3 separate regions of the Homo sapiens genome follow, and all the other regions are linked to region 2. Evidence: fine-mapped expression QTL. A gene starts in region 2. Each other region holds a variant in brackets. All regions are shown on one strand. Distances are between the middles of the regions. Region 1 overlaps SIK3 (SIK family kinase 3). Region 2 holds the start of SIDT2 (SID1 transmembrane family member 2). Region 3 overlaps SIK3 (SIK family kinase 3).

The links. PIP is the estimated chance that this variant, and not a neighbour inherited with it, causes the effect.
Region 1: its variant is fine-mapped to the expression of SIDT2 in whole blood (INTERVAL, PIP above 0.99).
Region 3: its variant is fine-mapped to the expression of SIDT2 in whole blood (INTERVAL, PIP above 0.99).

The regions. Positions count from the first base shown.
Region 1 is chr11:116,863,085-116,871,266 of GRCh38, forward strand. It overlaps SIK3 (SIK family kinase 3), which reads right to left. Exons shown (of 25, transcript NM_001366686.3): 14 at 7,247-7,317; 15 at 4,862-5,005; 16 at 584-734. Among named protein-coding and RNA genes, the nearest start is that of APOA1, 30 kb to the left of the region's middle. The variant T/C (reference allele first, on the strand shown) is at 4,849.
Region 2 is chr11:117,174,283-117,182,440 of GRCh38, forward strand. SIDT2 (SID1 transmembrane family member 2) reads left to right here and starts at 4,461. Exons shown (of 26, transcript NM_001040455.2): 1 at 4,461-5,164; 2 at 7,134-7,255; 3 at 7,525-7,689; 4 at 7,778-7,823. The coding sequence starts at 4,982. It also overlaps a transcript of PAFAH1B2 not described here. RefSeq lists silencers at 4,560-4,769, 7,377-7,436 and enhancers at 5,750-5,819, 6,847-6,906, 7,143-7,938.
Region 3 is chr11:116,939,253-116,947,434 of GRCh38, forward strand. The region is part of intron 3 of SIK3 (SIK family kinase 3); the gene reads right to left. Among named protein-coding and RNA genes, the nearest start is that of APOA1, 110 kb to the left of the region's middle. The variant T/C (reference allele first, on the strand shown) is at 3,972.

The DNA of each region.
Region 1 (8,182 bases), 310 kb before region 2:
AAAAAAGTAGCACCTTCTCTGGTGGTTCCCACAGAAACCCAAGCCCAGAAATTCCTTTCCAATGAACTAGAGACAGGAGAAAAATTTAGTCCCTTCACAGGGGAAGGAAGTTTGATCCTGGGGAGGGCTGTACATAACACAAAGTAAAGAAAGTGCATTAGAAAGCTATACTTTCTTTTTCTTTTAAGACAGAGTCTCGTTCTGTTGCCAGGATGGAGTGCAGGGGTGTGATCTTAGCTTACTACAACCTCTACCTCCCAGGTTCAAGTGATCCTCCCATCTCAGCCTCAGGAGTAGCTGGGACTATGCTAATTTTTAATCTTTTGGGGGAGAAAGGGTTTGCCACGTTGCCTAGGCTGGTCTAGAACTTCAGGGCTCAAGCAATCCTCCCACGTTGGCCTCCCAAAGTGCTGGGATTATAGGCGGGATCCACTGCGCCCGGCCCAGAAAGCTATACTTTTTTAACCTATAAAACTGCAATGTTGCTGACATAAAAGGGGTACGTTTACCACCCCAGTCCTCCTGCAATCCTGGCCTCTGTCACCCATGCTCCTCCAGGGATGCCTGCCACCTCTTCCATTACCTGCTGCAGCTGTTTGATGCTGCTGTTGTTGCCCATTTTTTCCAGGTGAGCTTTGAAGGCCTGGATGCTCGCAGCCCCATCTGAGAACCGGCGCACAGGGGAGAAACGCTCCGTAGGGAGGTGCAGAGTGTTGGAGTCCTTGTAGGTAGAGCTGAATATATGGGAAGAGAAGGTTAGAGGCTAGGACTCAGGGGCTTTGACCAAATCACACAGGGACTGCTGTTCCAGATGAACATAAAGACGGCTGGCTGCCCAGGTAGCCCTGCATATTATGCCACTTTCATGCCATTTCCAGACATCAGTCGTTTCCCTAGCCTGCTTCCCTTTAGAGGGCTCCAGGTGTACATCTTCCATTTCTACTTACCTTCGGTTGGCTTACTTTCCAAGCCTGGTGAGGTCCCGAGATCAAGTACATCCAGTTCTTATAAATACACTAGGCCAGAGAGAAAAGCTTCTCAATATCCTCCAGGCCAGACTGTACAGAAGCTCTTGCTTTTATAATCATATGTCTATCTAGTGCCTTTAGAAACCTTAAATTCACCATTTGAGCCAAAGTTTTCCCTGAGCAATGATCTCCGTATGGCCAGAGGGAAACAACAGTCAGTTTTGTGGTCAAAGGTCTGGCCTAGAACTCATAGGTTCTGTGACAGAAAATAGAAGGTGGCGATTGGGGTGGGGGAAAATGAAGACTTCTGATCCTGGGATGGAGACAACAAATTCTTAAGGAATGTGGGCCTTGAGATCCTGCACGTACCTGGTCAACAAATAAGGTCACCTACTGTGAAAATCAACTTCTCAGAGCAGCAGCACTCACCCAACCTCCTAATGAAAGAGGAATCATATGGATTACCTTCAAAGACCCCACTGCTCAACTGGAACACAGCCAGAATCTTACAGAAAGAAAGAACAAGCTATTGATAAGGAATGCCTAAGACAGCATCGGGGTTAGAAGCTAACACCTACTCTTGTGACCTGATGATCAGAAAGAGATGTTTATGGGCTGAGGTAAGCAGATAAAAGACTGCCAAGGCAGCAGCATTCCAGTAGCAGATGGAAAGGATCAGGGTTTCATGTCCAGGGCAGAGATGCCATTACACTGAACTTTGGATGAAATGATGTGCTACCTTGCCAGTGATTCATTTGGGACTGAAGCAGAACCACAGCTCAGGAAGCAGGTTAACAAGCGAGTTCAAATACAATGCAGACAGCGCGGGACCAGGAGGAATCTAATGACCGTGCAGAGGTATCCAGAGAGTTCTGGCAGCAGGTGAAAGCCTTTTACCCTGTCTTTGCTAATGATGGCTTTTGTTTCAGACTCTACCTGAGGCTTGACCCAGCAGTGAGCTAATGAAATGAGCACGAACATGTATTTGGTTCAGCAACACAAAAAACAAATGAATTTGGCGGGCCACAATCCAGGAACAGGGATCATGAAGGCTGTGTTGAGAAGCATTTCCTTATAACTTGTCATTTCTGTTTCTACTTCAGGTTGAAGTAGAAGCAAGTAAGTACTATTTTCTCCTAAAATTTGATTCCTATGCTTTCAATGTTTTCTGAAATGGACATGTTTCTGATCCCCTCAGAAAGCCATGTTCTTCAAGTAGCAATACAGTCTTTCTGCACAAAAATAATTCTCTCCCATCACAGAAAATCCCAGGTCCAGGTATTTCATGACTTTTTCAGAAGCTCAGGTTGTGAAGAGACTGATACCCAGGTCAGTCCAGCACAGTAACCTCAGAGGAACGGTTCTGATGCAGTTGCTCATTTGAGAAGCACTGATAAGTATCAATTGTGCTTGATTTTATTTTTATTTGCAATCACACTCAAATTCAGGATGGCCTCGCATTAGGCTGATACTCCCACACTATACTCTTCAAGGAGGGACTTGGTTTCCCACCTGGATAAAATCTATCTTGTGTTAGTTTAAAAAAATTTTTTAGTTACACTTTTTAAAACATTTTTAACCTTAAATTACACATTTCCAGAAATGAAAAGGTTGATTAGACCACTCTTCTGTTTCCATGTTGAACTTCATCTCTTCTACCCCAGAAGGATAGCTATATATACTGTTCTTTAATCATTTCCTCCAGAAAATGAAAGGAATTCAAGAACCCATGCAGGCCACCCGTATTCCATGTTTTATAGCCTTGGAAAGTTTCTCATTTCCCCTGAAGACTGGCTTTAATCTCTTTTGCTGCATATTTGTATAGTGATCCCATCAAGACATGCTGGGTTTGCACAAATGCCCCATCTTATGCAATTTGCCACTCATAAAACATCATTTTCTTCCAATTCAAATAGGCTTGGCCACAGGCAACCCTCAAAACACCAAAAAGGTTCACATGAAAACAGACAGCAGATAGATTTCCAGCAGGCAAGGCCTTGACAATGACTCTAGGCAGGGTGGATATCACACAGACAGAGCTGTGGTCCAGTGTGGACCTCCTTGAGTAACAAATGTCAACAGAATATAGGGTCTGTGATAAAGCCTGACTCTGGAAATGTGACGATCTTCATGTTCCCCTCATAAGAAGACCTCCTGAGGAACACCTAGCATTCAACAAGGATACCTAAAGGACTTCAGCTAAACAACAGACTCAGACAAGGGCTGAAACATTAAGTGTCAGGCTGTGGAGGAAGGGAAGAAGGAGACAAGGAGAAAAGAAGGAATAAAGGGTGTATTAGATACCAGTGTAGAGCTTGAAGTTATGAGAAATCACAGGAAACGTATAGGGGAGGAGAAGGCAGGTCTCCAGTAATCACTCAAAGTGCTCTTTATTTATTTATTTATTGAGACGGAGTCTCACTCTGTTGCCCAGGCTGGAGTGCAGTGGCATGATCTCGGCTCACTGCAACGTCTGCCTCCCGGGTTCAAGCAATTCTCCTGCCTTAGCTTCCCGAGTAGCTGGGACTACAGACGCCCACCGCCACACCCGGCTAATTTTTGTATTTTTAGTAGAGATGGGGTTTCACCATATTGGCCAGGCTGGTCTCGAACTCCTGACCTTGTGATCCACCCGCCTCGGCCTCCCAAAGTGCTGGGATTGCAGGCGTGAACCACCGTGCCTGGCCTCAAAGTGCTCTTTAGTGTGTACGAACACTGTAAGTCCTGAGAGACTTTCATTAGAAAAAGCCTGTCTTTCTGTGCCATCAGAGTTTTATTTGAGAATTGTCATTCTTGCTACTCCTGACAGACCATTTTTACCAAGTTACTCATAGTCATTTATGAAAGCTTATCTTCCTTCTTTTAGGGTTCCAACGTGGCACTAATTATGTCCCACTCTGCTCAGAGTTCACTTGCCTCTGCTGATTATGTTGATGCCAAATGGGTAACCAGCCTCAGTAAAAAAAATGTGTCAAGCTTGCCAGTGCAAGCTGGCTGCAAGATTTCATAACACCACATATATAAACCTAGTTTCCTTGGAATCTGATTGCTTTTCAACCTTCCCAAGGCTGCTTTTCAGTGTCCTCCCCAAAAGACAGAAATAAAATACGCTCTAGTAACTGGTGGTGGCTTTGAACGTGTGGGCCATGAGCTTGGGGATAGCTTCGGAGTGGCCAAGACTGAGATTTTTAGTCATCAAGATAGTCACAGAAGATAATCATCTTCTTCAACTAGCAAAGTGTCATTCCGCAGCTGCTTCCAGGCTTACTTGGAGTCAATGAAGTTTTCTTGGTCAGGAAGGTTAAACTTGCTTTTATTTCTTCAAGAGAATGGATTATAACCATAACCGAACCTAGCAAAAGATTTTTGCCATCAGAATATTGAAAGAATGACCTCTTAAATACATCGCTCAAGAGGATCTCTGCTCTACTATTCAGAAGGGGCTTTGTCTTCATTTCCAGGCTGGCGGTTCAATGGTAACACGATATGAAATGCTCATTCTTTTGAAGGTGATGGATTATTAAAGGTCAAGTCTATCGATATGGCTAAAAATCTTCCTGTTTCCAGGTGGCCTTCTGAGAGTTTCACTTTCTTGCAGGTCTCAAGTTCAATTTTATCTATGAATCAACATCTAGAATCATGGGAATCAAATGCAGACAATAAACAGGTCTGCAAGGTAATGGGAGAGAGGAATCTCGCATTGCTCCAGGGCGCAGTAAAAAACCTTTGCCCTGTGCATTGCTTACTGCAAGGAGCTGAGAAGATGTGAGTTCAGGATGACAGCTGGCTTCTATTTAAAGCCACGATGCTAGTCACCGTCGCTGTGAGACTAATCAGAAGGGTGCCTGTCCGATGAGCCTCAAGGAGCTCGCACAGCTCA[T/C]GTGGCTACTCACCGATGCTGATCAGGTACCAGGTGAGGAGGCCAGACCCGGGAACGGAAAGGCTGCTGTCCTAGCTGCCGTTGTAGGTCCGGTGGGATCTCAGCTGTAGGGTTGGTCATGGCCAGTGTATGTCTTTTGGACCTATTTGCCAAGTACCTGCAACAAGCAGGAGCACATTTCATAGTAAAAAAGACAGACAGGAATATTCCTCCACAAGAAGCATTAGAAGTTAATCCAAAGCACTCAATGAAATAGTGCCAGAGCTCACGAAGGCTTGATGGCAAACAGATCCCTGCCTGGATGGAAGTGAGACACGTCTAACTGGCCAACAGAAGTTGGCTTGACAATGAAGTGGCTGAATTTTGAACCTAAGAATAGCCATTGAAGAGAAGAGAGAAAGTAGATCTAGCTCACAAAGATGAGATCACTTTTCCTTGCTTCATTCTACTCGGTAGAAGAATTTATTTTCTCCATGTTAATTTATTCATCTTTTCCCTCCAAATTTCCAAAATACAAGTCAGAGGAAATGAGCCCTAAGGACTATTCCTAGAGATGAACCTGGGGAGATATTCAGAAGGACTCTGTGCATGTCTCTCGATCTCACAGGCCCCAGGTTTGAGACTTTCTTCACTACAGGTCACAGAAAACTGATCCTTCCATTTGAGGATAAATGAATTCCAAAACCACCCTTTCCCTCTCGCTTGGTGACTATAACTCAATCATCAGAGAAGAAAAACTGATGTTGTCCTTGGGGAACCAACATTCTGTGGAGGATGAAGAAATAAAACCACATGAAATGTTTAGTTAGGGAGGGAAAAAGCAAGGCAAAAAATAAAAACAGAAGAGTCTCACAAGACGAAGAGTTCCCAAACTGATGGCTTTTATTCGGAAGATCTTTCAGACCCAGCACTTAGTTAATACCATCAATAAGATATTGTCCCTCTTTGTCTGGTGGATGACTTCCTCCACCGCTGCTGCTCTTCTGGAGGCATGAATAAAAGAGGCACTACACCTTTTTTATTACATCAAAACTGATGGGCATTATACCCTTGAAATGTTGGTCTAAAGAAGAAAGAAGGTAGACCTGGAGGAAGGAAAGTCTAAGACAAAGAAGATAAAATATTGCTGTCTCTTTTAAGGTAGAAAGGCAGTAAATTTCCTGATTTCTCATTTCTTCATGACCCAGTAGGGCCCATTTGTAACCTTATATACCCTCTTATCAGCAAACTATAGAAACAACAGCATCAAGGAAAAAAAAAAGTTACCAGAATTTTCCTTCTATTGGCCAAGCTGTAGAAGGAGCTGGCCCACCTGCCAACACCCCTGTTTGCCATGGTTTTCTTTCCACATAGGACCAGCTGCTTTCTGAATAGCAGCTCTCACACAGAGCTACTGGGGATAGGATGAGAGTCCTAGCCAGCAACTGGCAGGTTCTTAAAAAATGGTCTCATTTCATTCTTAACTATCTTGCCCCTTTCAGCTAAAATCAGTTAACAGACTGTAGAGTAATCAGTGTTATGTGAACTTGCCAAAGAGTAAGCCATTAATGTTTTAATAACCATTGGATAAAGACACCCAAAGTTCCCCAAAAGCCCATGAAAACCATTTTATTTCAACTTCCCTCAAAGGAAAAAACATATAATCTTGAAGAACACCTGTATTTCTGGGAAAATACATGCTGGATTCTGGTGAAACCCCCTCCCCGGATAATAAGAAAATCAACTCCCACAAGGGGGCATGCATGGAGCTAAGGACCAGGGCTAACGGAACTGAGGCCAAATGAACAGTACAGCATGCCTGATGGTCACTGCCGTTCTCTGTGAGTTAGGCATCTCTCAACAAGGTTCTGTAAACAATGGATATTTGCATCTGTCCCTGGCCCGAATCCCATATTCTCTTTTTCAATATCTCTTTGTTGGTACAAGGGGGTGGAAGAAGCACACAGCAAACAGTACAAGAGGTATTCATTCTCCTGGAAAGGAAAAGTCCATGCCAGAGGTCCATGGCCAGACTAGCTAGGATCACTGTCATCCCACATCTCCAATTCCTTTTCAGTAAACAGTTCTTGGCAGGTACGAGCAGGCTTTGTGCCTTGTGAATACTATCAGAGTTGCAATATGAAGGCAGGGGACAAGGAAGAAGGAGGGAGGAAAGAAAAAGTTCTTATGGTTATTGCTGTCACTTAGGGGACTTCCAATGGTGCTTACAGAAATGACATTTTCTGGGTAGTCTTCTGTTACTTCCATGTGGGGTGGAACATGCCATCTGGCTTGAGCAAAGAGACCACACAAATGTTGAAGCTGCACTCTACCACCTCCTTGGGCAGAGGTGACCTTTCGCTGGTTGCAGGGGAGCCTGCCCAGGGGCTTCTGCAAGCACTGCCAGATGTCACATTACCTCTGCACAGCTTCCTGGTCTGGCTCCCCGTCTGAGCTCTCCTCGTCCACAGGGGTAACTGCTGGCACTGCCTGAAGAGAGACAGGAAGGAAAAGCTCAAGGTGGCAGCTTATTCTGTCATGCCTCTTACTCTAGTAACTGGGCTTGGGGCAGGACTTTCTGTTAACTTTCTTATTTACAGAACTTTTCTAGACTCCTGGGTTATACAGGATTTTCATATACCTATTTTTCCATTTTTACCTTGCTTAGGTAATACTAATTAGAATTTCTTCCTCTTATTTATCTTCATTCATTCATTTATTAATCTAACAAATAGCCAAATGCTTACTGTTACAGGATAAAATGTGAATTTACAGACATAGACCTTGCCCTCATTTTACAGTCTAGTAGAGGATAGAGACAAGTAAACAATTACAAAATAGCATGATCAAGTCTTCTAATGGGGGTGTTTGGGAATTAAGGAAGGCATCCTGGAGGAGGTAGCACCTAGCAGGAACCTGAAGGATGCACAGGAGCTGGTCAGGCAAAGAGGGACAGGAGTTACAGGTTTCCAGGCAGAAGAAAAGAGAAGGCCTGTAGGTGTTTGAGGACCCGAAAATACAGTAGAAGATTGTTTACCTGAAATGTCTAGGACTTGACCTGTTGTTTCATATTAATGTGATTTCCGGAGTTTAAATGTCTTAACTCCAGGAAAGCATAGTGAATTACTGAAATTACATTTTGGTACATAAGATACAATTGTGTAGTATCAATTCACTGCTTTAAAATAGTTGTTACTCGCCAAAACATGTGAGTGAAATGAGAACCACCACAATGCTTGTATCACTGTGACTTTCCCATCTGCATCCTTGCTAGCTACCCATAGCCTGGGTGCCCACATCATCACCATGCCCCAGTCACTAGAACAAAAATCACACTTCAATTATTATAAAAGAG
Region 2 (8,158 bases):
AAGTGATTCTCCTGCCTCAGCCTCCCGAGTAGCTGGGATTACAGGCGCCTGCCACCACACCCAGCTAATTTTTGTGTTTTTATCAGAGACGGGGTTTCACCATGTTGGCCAGGCTGGTCTCAAACTCCTGACCTCAGGTGATCCACCCACCTCAGCCTCCCAAAGTACTGGAATTACAGGCGTGAGTCACCGCCCCTGGCCATTTTTTTTTCTTTTTTTTTAGTGGTGTTTCACTCGTTGCCCAGGCATGCAATGGCGTGATCTCAGCTCACCGCAACCTCTGCCTCCCAGGTTCAAGCGATTCTCCTGCCTCAGCCTCCGAAGTAGCCGGGATCATAAGCATGTGCCACCACGCCCGGCTAATTTTGTATTTTTAGTAGAGACAGGGTTTCTCCATGTCTGTCAGGCTGGGCTCGAATTCCTGATCTCAGGTGATCCGTCCACCTTGGCCTCCCAAAGTGCTGGGATTACAGGCGTGAGCCACTGCACCTGACCTAATTTTCTGTATTTTTAGTAGAGACGGGCTTTTACCATGTTGGCCAGGCTGGTCTCAAACTCCTGACTTCAGATGATCCAACCGCCTTGGCCTCCCAAAGTGCTGGGATTACAGGCGTGAGTCACCGCACCAGGCCATCTTCAGGTCATTTTAACAATACCCCTGAGCCACCTGAAGCTTCCTCCCTGTCCTCTCACCCCAAACTTCATAAATCCCCTGTGACTTAAAATGGAGCTGGACTCATGGGTCCAGCAAGCTCCTCAGCTGTGTGTTGAATGGTCCCATTTCTTTGGTCCATTCAACACTCAGGCTCAGGAAGGGTGGTCCACAGGGAAATATAAGTCAAATAAGCCTTATGGCCCCACCCTGACCGCTTGAGGGCCACGGTTAGGGTTGAGCTCTTTGTATATTATGCCAGGGAATGCGGTAGCTGGACCTGTGCACAAGGCCAGGATCACATCCCTGAGGCCCCGACATCTCCCCTGTGTGCTCACAAGTCTGGCTTTGAGACACACCACTGCCTTTTTTTGCTGACTGCTGCAGCCAACAAAAAGGCATTCTCTCCCAGTGGACAGACCTCAGAAAGGACCTATTCATAAGTGCGGGGTAGGGCAGAGGGACTGAGGAAAGTTCTGCAGACCTGGGAACAGCAAGAAAATGTGCAGTTGCTGCCCTCCCACTCTGTAGACGCAGGGTCCTGACGATTCAAAAGTTAAGTCTTGAGACCTTGCAAAAGGGAAGGATCCCTTCAGAGTTTGCTTGGATGGATTTCTCTCCAGATATTGCCAGCGGAAAGGGAGCAAACAGAAATAGTGATAGTCCACAGTTGTTTGGTTCCAGAGCAGTGGTTCTCAAACTTCATTGTGCATAGCAAGCTTCTGGAGTGCCCCGTTAAATTGCAGTTTTCTGGGCTCCACCTCCCAAGATGAATTAAGTGTGAAGTAGGACTCTGGATGTGCGTTTAAAACAGGCGTAGGGTCACATCTTGCCCCAAAGTTATGAGGCCAACTTAGAGTAGTGGTGCTTGCCTGTAATCCAGCTACTCGAGAGGCTGTGGCAGATCGCTTGAAGCCAGGAGTTCAAGACCAGCCTGGGCAATGTATCACGAGTGTTTCTTAATGTTTCAGATTATTTACTGGCAAGATGAGCAGGATTACCATGAAAGAAAAGTCCAGATGGACTGAGGAAATCCTACACTGATTCTCCAAACTTGGCAGCTGACTGCATGGAGGGCTCATGATGAAGAAACCTCTTTTGCCATCCTGAGGATTCTCTGATTCATATTCGCCTAGATGTGCTGGAAACAGTACTGGACCAAGGTGCAAACTTGAGTCTAGTGAGGTACTAATGGGCTGAAGTTTTTCTGAGCGTCACTTTCCTCATCTGTATAATGAGGGGTTGGCCAAGGAAACCCATAAGGTTATCTTCCAGCTGACTTTCTAATTGGTGAACCCTTTGGAAAAGGGGTGCAGCTTGCTTCTGGTCTTCATCCTCAAGTATGCTGTGCTTGGACAGGGGCCAAAACTAATTCCTCCACTCACCATTTGCCCAGCATAACTACAACAGTACCTGGCACATCGTGGATGCTTATTAAATATTTATTGCAGGAATGAGTAAATATAACTAACTGATCATAAGGTAAAATAGTCTTCATTGGAACAAGGCTCCAGATAGTTGGGCAGGGCTGGGAGCTGAGACTGCTGCAATCCTGCCAGCTGAGAGAACTCTGACAAGGCACTGATCTGGGTGGCTTTATTAGGATGTCTGACAGCTTCAGAGGTGGCCACATTTCTTTTCCTTTAAACATGTCTAATTTGGCCGGGCGCAGTGGCTCACGCCTGTAATCCCAACACTTTGGGAAGCCTAGGTGGGTGGATCACTCGAGGTCAGGAGTTCGAGATCAGCCTGACCAATATGGTGAAACCCCGCTTTACTAAAAATACAAGAAATTAGCAGGGTGTGGTGGCGGGTGCCTGTAGTCCCAGCTACTTGGGAGGCTGAGGCAGGAGCATCGCCTGAACTCAGGAGGCGGAGATTGCAGTGAGCTGAGATCACACCACTGTACTCCAGCATGGGTGACAGTGAGACTCCATCTCAAAAAAAAAAAAAAAAAAAAGTCTAATTTGTCTTATAAATGCAATATATGTGGCCAGGCATGGTGGCTCATGCCTATAATCCCAGCACTTTGGGAGACTGAGGTGGGTGGATCACCTGAGGTCAGGAGTTCGAGACCAGCCTGACCAATATGGTGAAACCCCGTCTCTACCAAAAATACAAAAATTAGCTGGGCGTGGTGGCACATGGCCTGTAATCCCAGCTACTCGGGAGACTGAGGCAGGAGAATTGCTTGAACCCAGGAGGCAGAGGTTGCAATGAGCTGAGATTGTGCCACTGCACTCCAACCTGGGCAACAGAGCGAGACCCTGTCTCCACCCCCCGGCAGATAAAAAAGCAATATATAAATATATATACATTGTAGAACATTTGTAAATCTTTTTAAATATAAAAAATAAAATTTAAGAACCACTCACAATCCATTATTTTTTATTTTTTGGTACTACTCTATATTTTTAGAATTAAAGGAAAATGATATACAATATGTGTTATTTTTAAAATTGTAATTCAAAGATAACTACTGCTAAATTTTATTTTTAAAATTTGCCCTGCTTTCTGGAGACATTGCTAAATGTTTAGTACAATTTTTTTCTATTTTTCTATGCATGTCTATATGCATTTGGAATATATACGGTTTTATTTACTTATTTATTTTTGAGACAGAGTCTTGCTCTGTTGCAGCCCAGGCTGGAGTGCAGGAGCATGATCTCAGCTCACTGCAACCTCCGCCTGGTAGAGTTAAGCGATTCTCCTGCTTCAGCCTCCCCAGTAGCTGGGATTACAGGCACGCGTCACCACGCCCCACTAATTTTGTATTTTTATAGTAGAGATGGGGTTCACCATGTTGGCCATGGCTGGTCTCGAACTCCTGACCTCAAGTGATCTACCTGTCTTGGCCTCCCAAAGTGTTGGGATTACACGTGTGAGCCACGGCACCTGGCTCTATATACTGTTTATTTAGTGTCATATCCTGAATTCTCTGCTTACGTGTCCTGTGAAGTCTTAAGCATCATTTTTGATGCCTTCATGATAGTGCATTTAACCAATCCCTCATTATGGATATCCAAGTCATTTCCTTTTTGCTTTATATTATAAATATCACAGTGATAAGCGTAGCTGCCCAGGTATTTTTATCTGTGCTTCCTATTTCCTTAGGATAGAGTCCAGAAGTGGAATTACTGGATCAAAGGGTATAAAGCTCTCTAAGTTTCTTGAAACAGTGCCAAAATATTTTGTAGAAAAGTTTTCACCAATTTACACTGAAGGTCAGTATCTTTCAATGAGTTTTGTAACTGTCTCTGAGAGAAGAGGGGAAACAGCCCGGCAAGCTTGGAAAGCTCGGAAGGCCGTCCCTGCAGTTGTGTGGCCCCTCTAGAGGGAGGTGGGAAAGGCATGGGGATTCCTCCTGCAGTGCTGCCTCCGTTTCCCCTCCGCCGGTAGGGCCACCGTCCTGTTTCCTAATCCTTCGAGTTTTTCATTTTTTAAGATCCCCGGAGAAAAAGTGGCCCAGGGTTGGACGATGTTAGTTGTAAAGGTGGTGGTGGGGGTGGGGGAATCCTTATGTTTGAGCAAATGTAAGAGTTGTTCAGCAAGAACCCAACACTTGGAGATTGTTAACAGAAACATCTGCCTATTCCAACGTGAGTTTCAGAGATGGTGAAAATCACGGGAGAGAGTTGGGTAGGAGTTGGAGAAGGCATTGCAAGCTTTCCCCTTCAGCTAGACAGCTGCAGCCCCTTTAAGGGCAAATGCGGGACCTGGTCCTTTAAATCTGTGTCAGTTTCCCCTGACGTCAGCGGGCGGGCCAGCAGCCCTGCTGTTTATCGCCCAGCGGCGCAGCTCACTTTTCAGTGTTCGTGCGTCGGGACGGCGCGTCCGCCCGCCCTTAAAGGGCCCGCACCTCGGAAAACTCGCAGCCCAGCACGGCGTCGGGTAGCTACCACCTATCACGCCCCTCACTCTGCGACTCGCCTTCCTCCGCGGCCAGCCCCCGCCGCCGGCTCTTCCTCCCTCCCCTTTCCCGGCGTCTCCAGGCTCCCGGCAACCAGCCGCCCTCCTTCTCACGGCCCTGGCCCGGGGCTCCAGGGTCTCAGGTCGTACTCAGCCCCTCGCGAGCTGGGACCCCTTCCCGTAGCCAGCATCCCCTCCCTCCCCGCCCCCTCCCGGCCGCCCCCTCCCCTGCGGGGACCCTGGGAGCCTCTTCGGGGCTCTTGGGAGGGGACATTTCCTAATCTCAGGCCGGGGTTAAAGTTCTGGTCCTGGTGAGATGCTGGAAGCTGCGGCCGCAGCCGCAACCCGTCCCGGAGGTGTCCTGTCTCCTGTCGCCGCCGCCGCCGCCACCACCGCTGCCACTGCCGCCCTGCCGGGGCCATGTTCGCTCTGGGCTTGCCCTTCTTGGTGCTCTTGGTGGCCTCGGTCGAGAGCCATCTGGGGGTTCTGGGGCCCAAGAACGTCTCGCAGAAAGACGCCGAGTTTGAGCGCACCTACGTGGACGAGGTCAACAGCGAGCTGGTCAACATCTACACCTTCAACCATACTGTGACCCGCAACAGGGTGAGGGCTGGGGGCTTAGGGGCCAGAGGCGAGTGGGGAAGCCGACGAGGGCTAGGCGATTCTGCCGCCCCGCTACCCTTTTGGGAGGCCCCAGGAACGAGCTGTCCTGCTAGGTTCCCAGTTCCCAGAACCACACTGGAGCCTCTTGACCAGTCCTCCTTCCTTTGCCACCAATGTTTCTCTGAAGCTCCAGCTGGGCAGTTTTTGAAGTTGGCTCATTCCCATCTTCTCTTCCGCCCCCATTCTTCCATCAGTTGTGGTCTGAGCACACATGGCTTGCTCTCTACCCTAAACCCCAGAATCTGACAGCTCTGTGGGGTCTCGGTGGGAGAGGAAACAGGCTTATTACTGGGCTTGCCCAGAAAACCTCAGGGGAATGAGACTGGCCCAGAACTGAAAAGCTCTGTGCAGGCAAGTTACATCTCAGACTCCCCAGGGAGATGAATGCAGGGCTTCCCAGCCCTCTTCCTGCCTGGGAGAGCCAGCTGGCCTTGTAAATTGAGGGTGACAGAGGTTTTATAAGGCCAACTGCAAGTTGGGTGGGAAGAGAAGGGGAATTTGTCCACTGTGAAAAATCCACTTCACCCTGACTTCTCTTTGGTTTCTTCACCAGCTGTGAGTCCCTGAGTTGAAATAGACACAGCTAGTGTGGGAAGTCTAGACCCCAGGCAGAGCTGAGATTGGGAGAATTCTTGCAACCTGGCTGTGTGGTCTCGTGCCCGGGTCTCTTGCTCTCTCTCCATGACTGCCGTTTACTGAGAAGCAATGGAGTTGAGAATGGGGAATCTGATTTTTTTTCAGAACGGGGAGTGGTTTGGTTTCTGTGGCAGGCCAGGATCTGCCCCCAGTGCCTGGTTCTCTGAAGTTTGATCTCTTTCTGCTTAGAGTCCTTTCTTCCTTTTTTCCCATATCTAAAGGCACTGGAGAGCTGTGGTTTTTACTCTTTTGGGAAATGCTGCCCTAGGGCTTGGGTTTCAGCAGCCCAATAACAAGCATTCCAAGATCGATTTGGTTTTATTTTTCCTTTAAGCTCCCATTGTTTATATATGTTCCTTCATAGCTCCAAGGGTGAAGATCACTTTATCTTTTTTTTTTTTTTTTTTTTTTTGAGACCAGTCTCACTCTGTTGCCCAGGCTGAAGTGCAGTTTTGTGATCTCAGCTCACTGCAACCTCCGCCTTCCCGGTTCAAGCGATTCTCCTGCCTCAGCCTCCCAAGTAGTTGAGATTACAGGCGCCTGCCACCATACCCAGCTAATTTTTGTATTTTTAGTAGAGATGGGGCTTCACCATGTTGGCCAGGCTGGTCTCAAACTCCTGACCTCAGATGATCCTCCTGCCTTGGCCTCCCAAAGTGCTACAAGCGTGAGTCACCGCACCCGGCTGTCATTTTATAGAGGGAGAAGTTGAGGCTTAGAGAAGTAAAGTGACTTCTCCACAGCCCTGTCCCTTGGTGGGAGCTAAGGATACAACATGGCCTTCAATACCTACCCCTCCTCAACTCCTCTGGGCTCTGGCCCCAGGTTAGCTGTTAACTAGAGCTTCCTGCTGGCTTCCTGGCTCACAGGAAGGTTGAGGAGCACTTCTTGTTCTCCTGTGTCTTCGTGTGTGGGGGCGTGTGTACACGTTTGTGTGTGCAGGCCTGTGCATCCTGTGCACATGGATAGGAATGGGGTATCCTGGAGACTCGCAAGGCCTCCACCGTGTTTCCTGGCAGAGGGTGAGACCCTGCGGTTGCTTGGGTCCTGCTGCCCTGCACATGTCTGCCGGCCAGGAGCTGCACTCAGCACAGGTCTTTCCTGGAGTCTGGGGGTTGTTCTGGCAGAAGAAGAGGCAGAGATGACTCCCTGGCCCGACCAAGATGGAGAAAGACCAAAGTAGCTGGCATGAAGGAGGGCAGGGCTCATAGTCTCTGGAGCCACGTGTCCCTGGTGGCAGAGGCTTGAGAGGCATTTCCATGTCGTTCTGCAGACAGAGGGCGTGCGTGTGTCTGTGAACGTCCTGAACAAGCAGAAGGGGGCGCCGTTGCTGTTTGTGGTCCGCCAGAAGGAGGCTGTGGTGTCCTTCCAGGTGCCCCTAATCCTGCGAGGGATGTGAGTAGGATCTGGGCATCAGGGAAGCGGGGCAGCCTAGGCCAGTCCTTGGCTGGAGCCTCAACCAGGAGCCCCCCCATTTCTCCTCCCCTTTCCCTGGGCTGGGAGGCTGGTCAACAGCACAAGGGCCGAGTCCCACCAGCCGGGAGCTTGTGCACCTCGCAGGGAGGTGGTGGAGACCAGACGGGGCGAGGTGGGGCCTCGCTCCTCTGGAGGGGCAGGCCGGCTGGGACAGTGCTCACATCCTATCTCCCTGCTTCGGGCCATAGGTTTCAGCGCAAGTACCTCTACCAAAAAGTGGAACGAACCCTGTGTCAGCCCCCCACCAAGAATGAGTCGGAGATTCAGTTCTTCTACGTGGATGTGTCCACCCTGTCACCAGTCAACACCACATACCAGCTCCGGGTCAGCCGCATGGACGATTTTGTGCTCAGGTCTGCAGGGTAGAGTGAGGGGACCACGGGGGCTGGTTCTTCCCCAGGCTCCGGGGGTGACTGGTGGGGGCTCTTCTCTGCCCTGCAGGACTGGGGAGCAGTTCAGCTTCAATACCACAGCAGCACAGCCCCAGGTAACATCTCCCTGTTGATTGCTCGAGAGGAGAAATGGGGGAGCTTGAATATGAGAATGGGAGTGGCCAGCGGTCTTTGCTTGGCCTTTTGAATTGGCTGTTTTCTCCATGGAGGGCTCTCTGGAAACAGGAGCTCTGGCCCTGACATGGTGAGGGACAGACAGCATGGGACTGTACAGAGACATGGAGTCTGGTTGCCTCTCTGGCATTCTGCTGAGTGCCCTGCTGAGGTTGAAGGGAATGGTATACAGAGAAAGGGGCTGCTGTGATCAAGGCCTGTCTCCTCGGAGAGCCTCCACTGCCCACCCCTCAGAGGATTCTGGGTCCTCGCTTAT
Region 3 (8,182 bases), 240 kb before region 2:
TTCTCCTGCCTCAGCCTCCCAAGTAGCTGGGACTACAGGTGTGCATCACCATGGCTGGTTAATTTTTGTATTTTCAATAAAGACAAGGTTTCACCATGTTGGTCAGGCTGGTCTGAAAATCCTGACCTCGTGATCCACCTGCCTCGGCCTCCCAAAGTGCTGGGATTACAGGTGTGAGCCACCAAGCCCGGCCTTGCAACTTCTAATGAAATAGCTAGGCAACTAAATGACAGGAGTAGATAAAACATTACGTAAAAGACTGATGGGAAACTTTATAAAGGATCAATTTGGTGAACAATAACTATACCTGAAGATTATTCTAAGTATCACTAAAAGTGGGAAAATCAGATATTATACAACTCTTGAAGTGATGCAATAAAAAACTATGGAGCACTCCTGCTTCCCCTCCAAAAACTGAACTAAGCAAATTCCTAAATATAACTTCCACTTTCCAAGAAACACTGAACTACAGGAACATGTTGAATGACACAATAAATATATGATCAGCCAAATTCCAAATGTAGGACATTTTTTAAGACAATCCAGTTTCTTACATAAATAGATAGCATAGAAAAAAAGTAAATGTTTGTAGGGAAGAGATGAGGTTGTCACAGATTATTTAAAAATTTAGATTATAAAAAATTTAGACATTTTTCAACTCAATGGATGTATGGATTTCTTGCATCGTAATTTGTACAAACTATAAGAAGATGTTTTGAAACATCTGCAGAAAGCTAAACATGCCCTGGCTATTACATGATAGTAAGGAATTACTGTCAATGCTGTTGTATGTAAGAATGGCATTGTAGACTTCTGTTTTGATTATGAAAGAACAACTGATATTGAATTTACTTTACCTAACTATAGAAGCTGGGCTGTTTGTAGACACTGGATAATAACAAACACAGGGTTATGATTTTCAGAGAAAGTAAATGTTAATGTAGGAGCCAGGCAAAAATATTCCTTTAAGGTTTTTTTGTTTTTTTTTTTTTTTTGAGACAGAGTCTCACTCTGTCACCCAGGCTGGAGTGCAGTGGTGCGATCTTGGCTCACTGCAACCTCTGCCTCCCATATTCAAGTGATTCTTGTACCTCAGCCTCCCGAGTAGGTGGGACTATAGGCGTGTGTCACCACGCCCAGCTAATTTTTGTATTTTTTAGTAAAGACGGGGTTTCAACATGTTGGCCAGGCTGGTCTTGAACTCCTGATCTCAAGTGATCTGCCCATCTCAGCCTCCCAAAGTGCTGGGATTACAGAAGTGAGCCACCATGCCTGGCCCTTTGGGATTTATATATACTCAATACAGCAAAAATAATTTGATTTGTTCTCTGGGGCTCTTATTTTTATGTCATGGTAGAAATGACTGGATGATCAGACTATAAATGAATGTTTTAGTGTAAAGTGAGGTCAAAGCACAGGTGGCTTCCTCATACATCTTGGCCAGTTACAATATAAATGCTGGTCACAGACCCACCCCCGCCAGCTCCCCTCCTTCATCCATGCATCTCTCCACTTGCACACTCCTGGTGGGGGCATTAAAAAAAAAAAAGGATAAATAAATAAAATAAATGTTAGTCATATCTGATATTAAGAAAACAGAACAAAAAATGAATAATAATAAATGGGAAATTAATTAGGGAAATAAATACAAGTCAATTATTTTGATTCAGAGTGACTAAAGTTCAGTAGCATGGTTACTTGCTTGTTAGGAGACCCTTAGAAAATAGCTAAGTTTTTGTTTGTTTGTTTGTTTGTTTTGTTTTGATTTTTTTGAGACGGAGCCTCGCTCTGTCCCCCAGGCTGGAGTGCAGTGGCGCAATCTCGGCTCACTGCAAGCTCCGCCTCCTGGGTTCAGGCCATTTTCCTGCCTCAGCCTCCCAAGTAGTTGGGACCACAGGTGCCCACCACCATGCTCGGCTAATTTTTTGTATTTTCGGTAGAGACGGGCTTTCACCATGTTAGCCAGGATGGTCTCAATCTCCTGACCTCGTGATCCGCCCGCCTCAGCCTCCCAAAGTGCTGGGATTACAGGCGTGAGCCACCGCGCCTGGCCGAAAATACCTTTTTTAATAATCAAAGGAGTAAATAAACTAGTGGGAAAATGGTAGTTTAGTTGTGAAGACATAAAGGATGCTGCGGATTAAATAAAAACATGTAAAAAAAAAAAAAAAGCCACAACAAACCAGTACATAGTAGTGTTCAAACAAATGTGTTGTATTCTTGAACTTCCAGGCAGTCACAAGATAAAATAACCTATGTGAAACACTTAACACAGTATCTTGTACACAATGGTTATGCAAGTTAGTCTTTCTGATCCTCTGTCCTAATAGTTTTTGAGTGACCTATGGCATAAATGAATGGCTTTGTGAGAAGTTCAGGGTTCCATACATGTTGGCACCATTAAGAAATATTATTTTTAAGACACTGAGAATGTTCATAATAAATCATACACATTTCAACAGACTCCTCTTAAATTAGTAATTTGTTTTAAATGCCCATGAGTTCTGCCTGGTATTCAGGAAATTTTGCTTGATAAAGTGCTGGATTTATGACTTCATGGTCTCAAATAGGAAGTTTGGGGATATATATCTAAAGATATCAGAGTGTGGAAGTTTTAAATTATAAATTTAGTGGTTTACAAAACTAACCAGTTTCTCAATTCTGTTTGTAACATTAAATAAACCCACACTGTCATCACTGCTCCTTCATAATATAAGGCTGAATAGTATGCAAAAATAAACTGGATAAGTCAATTGAATGAGTAGTAAATATTCATGAAATAACCAATTACTGAAGTCTATTTATTACACTGCTTAGAATTCATAATCTTCAATATGTCTTTCTCTATACAGTTACCCAAAAAAGGTGCTTTCCCCATGTCAAAAACTCATTTAACTAAGATGTTATTAAATAACATGCAAATTCCATGCTTGACTTAGTTATATTTCATTATGACACAATGAAATACATTTACTGAGTGCCTACTATATGTTAGACACTACATTAAACAAGGAAGACACAGATGAATAAAACTTAAACGCCATAATCAGCAATCCAGTGATGTTCTTTCATTCACTTAGTATTTTATTCAACTTATCAATAAATATTTATGGAACATGCATTCCCTGTAGGCACTATTTTGAGTATTGAAGATTTGGTAGGAAACAAAAATGACAAAGTCTTTAATGGCACGTAAATTTTATTGACTCAAGACAGTAAAAAAACAAATAAATATATGTCAGTTCATGATAAAAACCAAAAAGAAAAGTAAAGCAAGACAGAGACTACAGAGCAATGGGCCAGTAGGAAGAATGAGATTTTAGACAGCATGGTGAGCAAACACCTCTCTAATGAGATAACATTTGATAAGAGACTGGCAAGAAACAGGAGAGACAGCCATGTGGATATGTAGGAAAAGAGTAATTCAGGAAGAAGAAATGGAATATATGGTCTTAAAGCGGGAGCACAGCGAAGGGTTTAATGAAAAAGAAAGATGCCGATGTGAGGAGGAGAGTGCTAGGAGCTGTGGTGAGAGACAGCAGGAGACCAAATTATATAATCTTATAGGCTATAGTAGGAATTATAAATTTATTCCAAATAGATGGGAAAGCCAACAGAAGTAGCTCAGTGGTAAGGTCCCACTTGAATTTTAAAAGAATCCTTCTAGCTATAATCGGGGGGGAAGTCAGGGCAGATTCAGAGAGACTATTTAAAGGCTACTGCAGTGATCTTAGCAAGACATGATGGTGGCTTAGACCAGATTGGTAGTTATGGAGGTGGTGATAAGTGATTGAATTCAGCATATATAGTCTTCCCTCTCTATCTGTGGGCACCACATTCATGGATTCAATCAAGCCCCTTGGAAAATAGTCAAAGGAAAAAGAAATGGACCAGAGTCTAAATTACCAGTAAAAGACAAACTTAGAAATGAAAAAAAAAATTACTTCAAAAAGTGCTATAGGAGAGGTATG[T/C]TCAAAGTGAAGAAAAAAAGGTAATTAGCTATTTGGCAAAATCAGAGCAGAGTTCACAGGGGGAATAACATTTGAGATGGGTCACAAAAGTTAAGGAGGGACAAAGAGGGCAAAGAAGGGCAGCAGGGCTTTTACATCGGGGCCAACACCTCCCATTGATAATCACTTTTCCAACCAACTCCTCTAAGACTAGCAATTCCTTTACAGGCCTCTTGAGGTAAAAAGGGACAATATTCCACCAGGGATTAGGAATTAATGTAACCTCTTCAAGGTCTCCACTAACAATACTACGCCATATGTTTGGGCAGCTGGTATACTCCCTTTCTGCCTCTCTTGCCTTCACATTCATCAAAGACACTCACCGAAACCTAGTTTGTAGTCTATTGCGCCCTCCACTCAAATTCTGCCATCACCTAGGGAATGTGAACATCAATGAGGATAACTTATTTGACAGTTTGCTTCATGGTTCCTTTAGCCTTCTTTCTCTCCGGTGACCTAGAACTCTACCAATGTATAGCAACTATTCCTATGGCCACATCTTGAACTTGTCTTTGCTTGACATTATTTTAACTCTGAAATTCTAAACTTCCCCCTCTCTTATCTTAACCTTCTAAATTAGCACTATCAAATAAAATACAATGTGTGCCATTTATATAATTTCAGATTTTCTTGTAATCACATTTAAAAGTAAAAAAAAAAAGCACTCATTTTGAAAATCAGTAACTTACTTTAACCAAATACATCAAAAGATCATTTCAGAATGTAATCAATAAAAATAATAGCAATGAGATAGGGTACCTTCTTTTTTCATAGTAAGTCTTCAAAATCCACTGTGTATTTTATACTTTATAAGCGTATCACAACTAAAATACTAAGTTGTCTATAGCCAAGGTGTAATGTAGTTTTATCAAAATAAGAGTTGCGTTTAATAGAAAAATATTTTAGACTCTGCAGAGTGAAGAACTTGGCCTTACCCAAAGAGAAGGCCTGGCCTTCCCTTGGCTTCTGGGAAGCAGTCTCTGGGTTCTTGGAATGTTATGTCTGCTCGGAGTGTCTCTGTCTGGGAGCCTTGGGTCATGCCAGAGAGTCTAATAACATGATTTAGGCTGGGATTCGCCACACCCATATAGTCTCAGGGTAGAGGCTGGATATACATTGTTGGCTGCACAACAGCGTGACTTGACGTGTGGGCTTTGGGTCACGAGCATCAGTTGACCGAGACACACAGATCAATCATGTGAGCAATCAATCAATCAATCAATCAGGCTTATGTAAAATAAAAACACTGAACACAGAGGCTGGGCTGAGCTTCCCTGATGGGTACTGCTCTGTACACAATGTAACACATCAATACCAGGAGTGTAACATATCTTGTATCCACATGGAAAGGACAACAAAAGTTCTGCATTTCGTACTTCTCCTGGACTCTGCACTTCCTTCCCTGGCTGATTTTAATCTGTATCCTTTACCTGTATTAAACCAAACCGGGAGTATATTAGCTTTCAGTGAATTTTGTGAATCCTTCTAGCTATTTATCAAACTGAACCGGTTTTGGGAATTTCCTGAACTTGTAGGTGACAGCAGAGTGAGGGGTGATCTTGGAGACTATGCTCTCTTAGTCTGTAGTTGGCTAACTCTCACAGCTGGCCTAAAACTTTTCATAATACCTCAGTTTTTAAATTTAAATGTAAATTAAATTCAAAACTCAGTTCCTCAGGGGCACTAGCTACATTTCTTTTTTCTTTTTTTTTTTTGAGACGGAGTCTCGCTCTGTCCCGTAGGCTGGAGTGCAGTGGCTGGATCTCGACTCACTGCAAGCTCCGCCTCCCGGGTTCACAACATTCTCCTGCCTCAGCCTCCTGAGTAGCTGGGACTACAGGCGTCCGCCACCACACCTGGCTCATTTTTTGTATTTTTAGTAGAGACAGGGTTTCACCATGTTAGCCAGGATGTTCTCAATCTCCTGACCTCGTGATCCGCCCGCCTCAGCCTCCCAAAGTGCTGGGATTACAGGCGTGAGCACAACAGCAACATGTGGACAGTGGCTGTCGTGTTGGGCAGTGTAGTTTTAGACTTTCATCTCTCCAACCTTCATATGCCCAACACACTAACACACTTGCTTTTCAACTTCATCTAGACCTGTAGCTTCATGAATTCTTTTTTTTTTTTTTTTTTTTTTTTAAATAACAGAGAATTTCTCCATGTTGCCCAGGCTGGTTTCAAACTCCTGGGCTCCAGTGATCTGCCTGCCTGGGCCTCCCAAAGTGCTGGGATTAGAGGTATGATCCACCATGCCCAGCCAGCTTTAAAAATTCTTATTTAAGATCAGTCATCCTGGTCTCACTTGCCTTCCCAACCCACTTCAGCCTAAGCCCAAAAGCCCACACTTTAATTACATTATTGCTAGTGGCCTCAAAACCCTTGTCACCTGTTGCCTCTTCATTTGCACATGTCCTGTAAACTCTAAACAGGATCAGTCCAATTGTCTGTCTTATTCAATTTACACACAGGTAATTGAGCATTGGTGGTAGGGGAAAAAAATCACTCAATTCTGTATAATGGAATAACAAGTTAACTGTTTCCTATCTCTAAGGCCTTTAATCAACTTATTTAGCTATTCTTAATTGCCCTCTCTCTCATTCCTCCCTGCAGCTAATTTCACTTTCTCCATGCTGATCCAGGTCTCTACCCTCTCACCCTTAATTCATCTGATAACATAATCTGCTACTCTCAATAGAAAATTATATGAAAAGCATGAAACATCTTTTTCACATTCTTCTACCTAAAAAATTGCCTACACCCACATGCATCCTTTATCTTCTATCCTTCTTCATGTGCAAGGCTAATTTCTTGCAATTATGCTCATCCCTCAGTTCCTCATTGATCTTGCTTTAGAGATTGTTTTCCATATCAATTATTTTCAAACTCATCTTCCCCACTACTGCATCTTCAACCTCAACCTGTAATCAAGTCTCATATTTAAACGAATCAAAATAAAACAAACCCCTCCTTATTTCCTGTCAAGTATCAAGAGGGTCTGAGATCTCACCATTTCTGCAAGCTAATAACTCAACCTGCCACAATTACATGGGTGATGGCAGAAGATAGGAAACCCCTCTGTCAGAGACAAAAGACTTTGTCACTTACGGCACAGCAAGCAGCATGAACATCAACATATTTGCTTCAGTTCCCCAAGCCCTAATTTTCACAGGGCACTGCAAAGGGGACCAGATGACGCCTACACACACAGTCGGGTCCATTATAGGAGAGGAACCCTGAGCTTGGAGCTTAGGGAATCTTTCACACTGGGCAATAAACAGATCTTTGAGCTGTGGAGGGAGATACTATCTCTGTCTTTCAAGGGTGCTCACTATATAAACATCCTTGAGAAAACAGTCTAGAACAAAGGCAGTCAGTGCCTTACTCATGAAACATGAAGAAATGTGAGATATCCGTGGAGAACTCTCTCCCAACAACCTTGCTTCCTGTACAAACTACTGTCTTCTCCCTTCTTTCCTTCAGAGCAATGCTTCTCAAAATAGCACCCAATGCCTCCACTTCTTTAACATCTGTCTCCACCTCTGCCATTTTATTAATATTTCCCTAGCCAGGCCAGGAGCGTTGGCTCACGCCTGTAATCCCAGCACTTTGGGAGGCTGAGGCGGGCAGATCACAAGGTCAGGAGATCAAGACCATCCTGGCTAACATGGTGAAAACCCATCTCTACTAAAAATACAAAAAATTAGCCGGGCATAGTGGCGAGTGCCTGTAGTCCCAGCTACTTGGGAGACTGAGGCAGAATGGTCTGAACCTGGGACGTGGAGCTTGCAGTGAGCCGAGATTGCGCCACTGCACTCCAGCATGGCCACAGAGTGAGACTTCGTCTCAAAAAAATATATATATAATATATAAATTATTATTTATATATAATATATTATATATAAATTATTATTTATATATAATATATTATATACAAATTATTATTTATATACAATATATAATTATTTATATATTTTATATATAATTATTATTTATATATTATATATATATATAAAGTCAGAGAATATGCTACAACATGTCAACATGTTCTAGCAGTCAGAGAAAGGAGGCCCAGCAAAAGATACTAAGAAGGAACAGTCCGAACAATAGAAGAATCAGAAGTTGAACATTTGTGGAAGTCAAAACTAAGAGCTTTAGAAGGAAACAGTCAA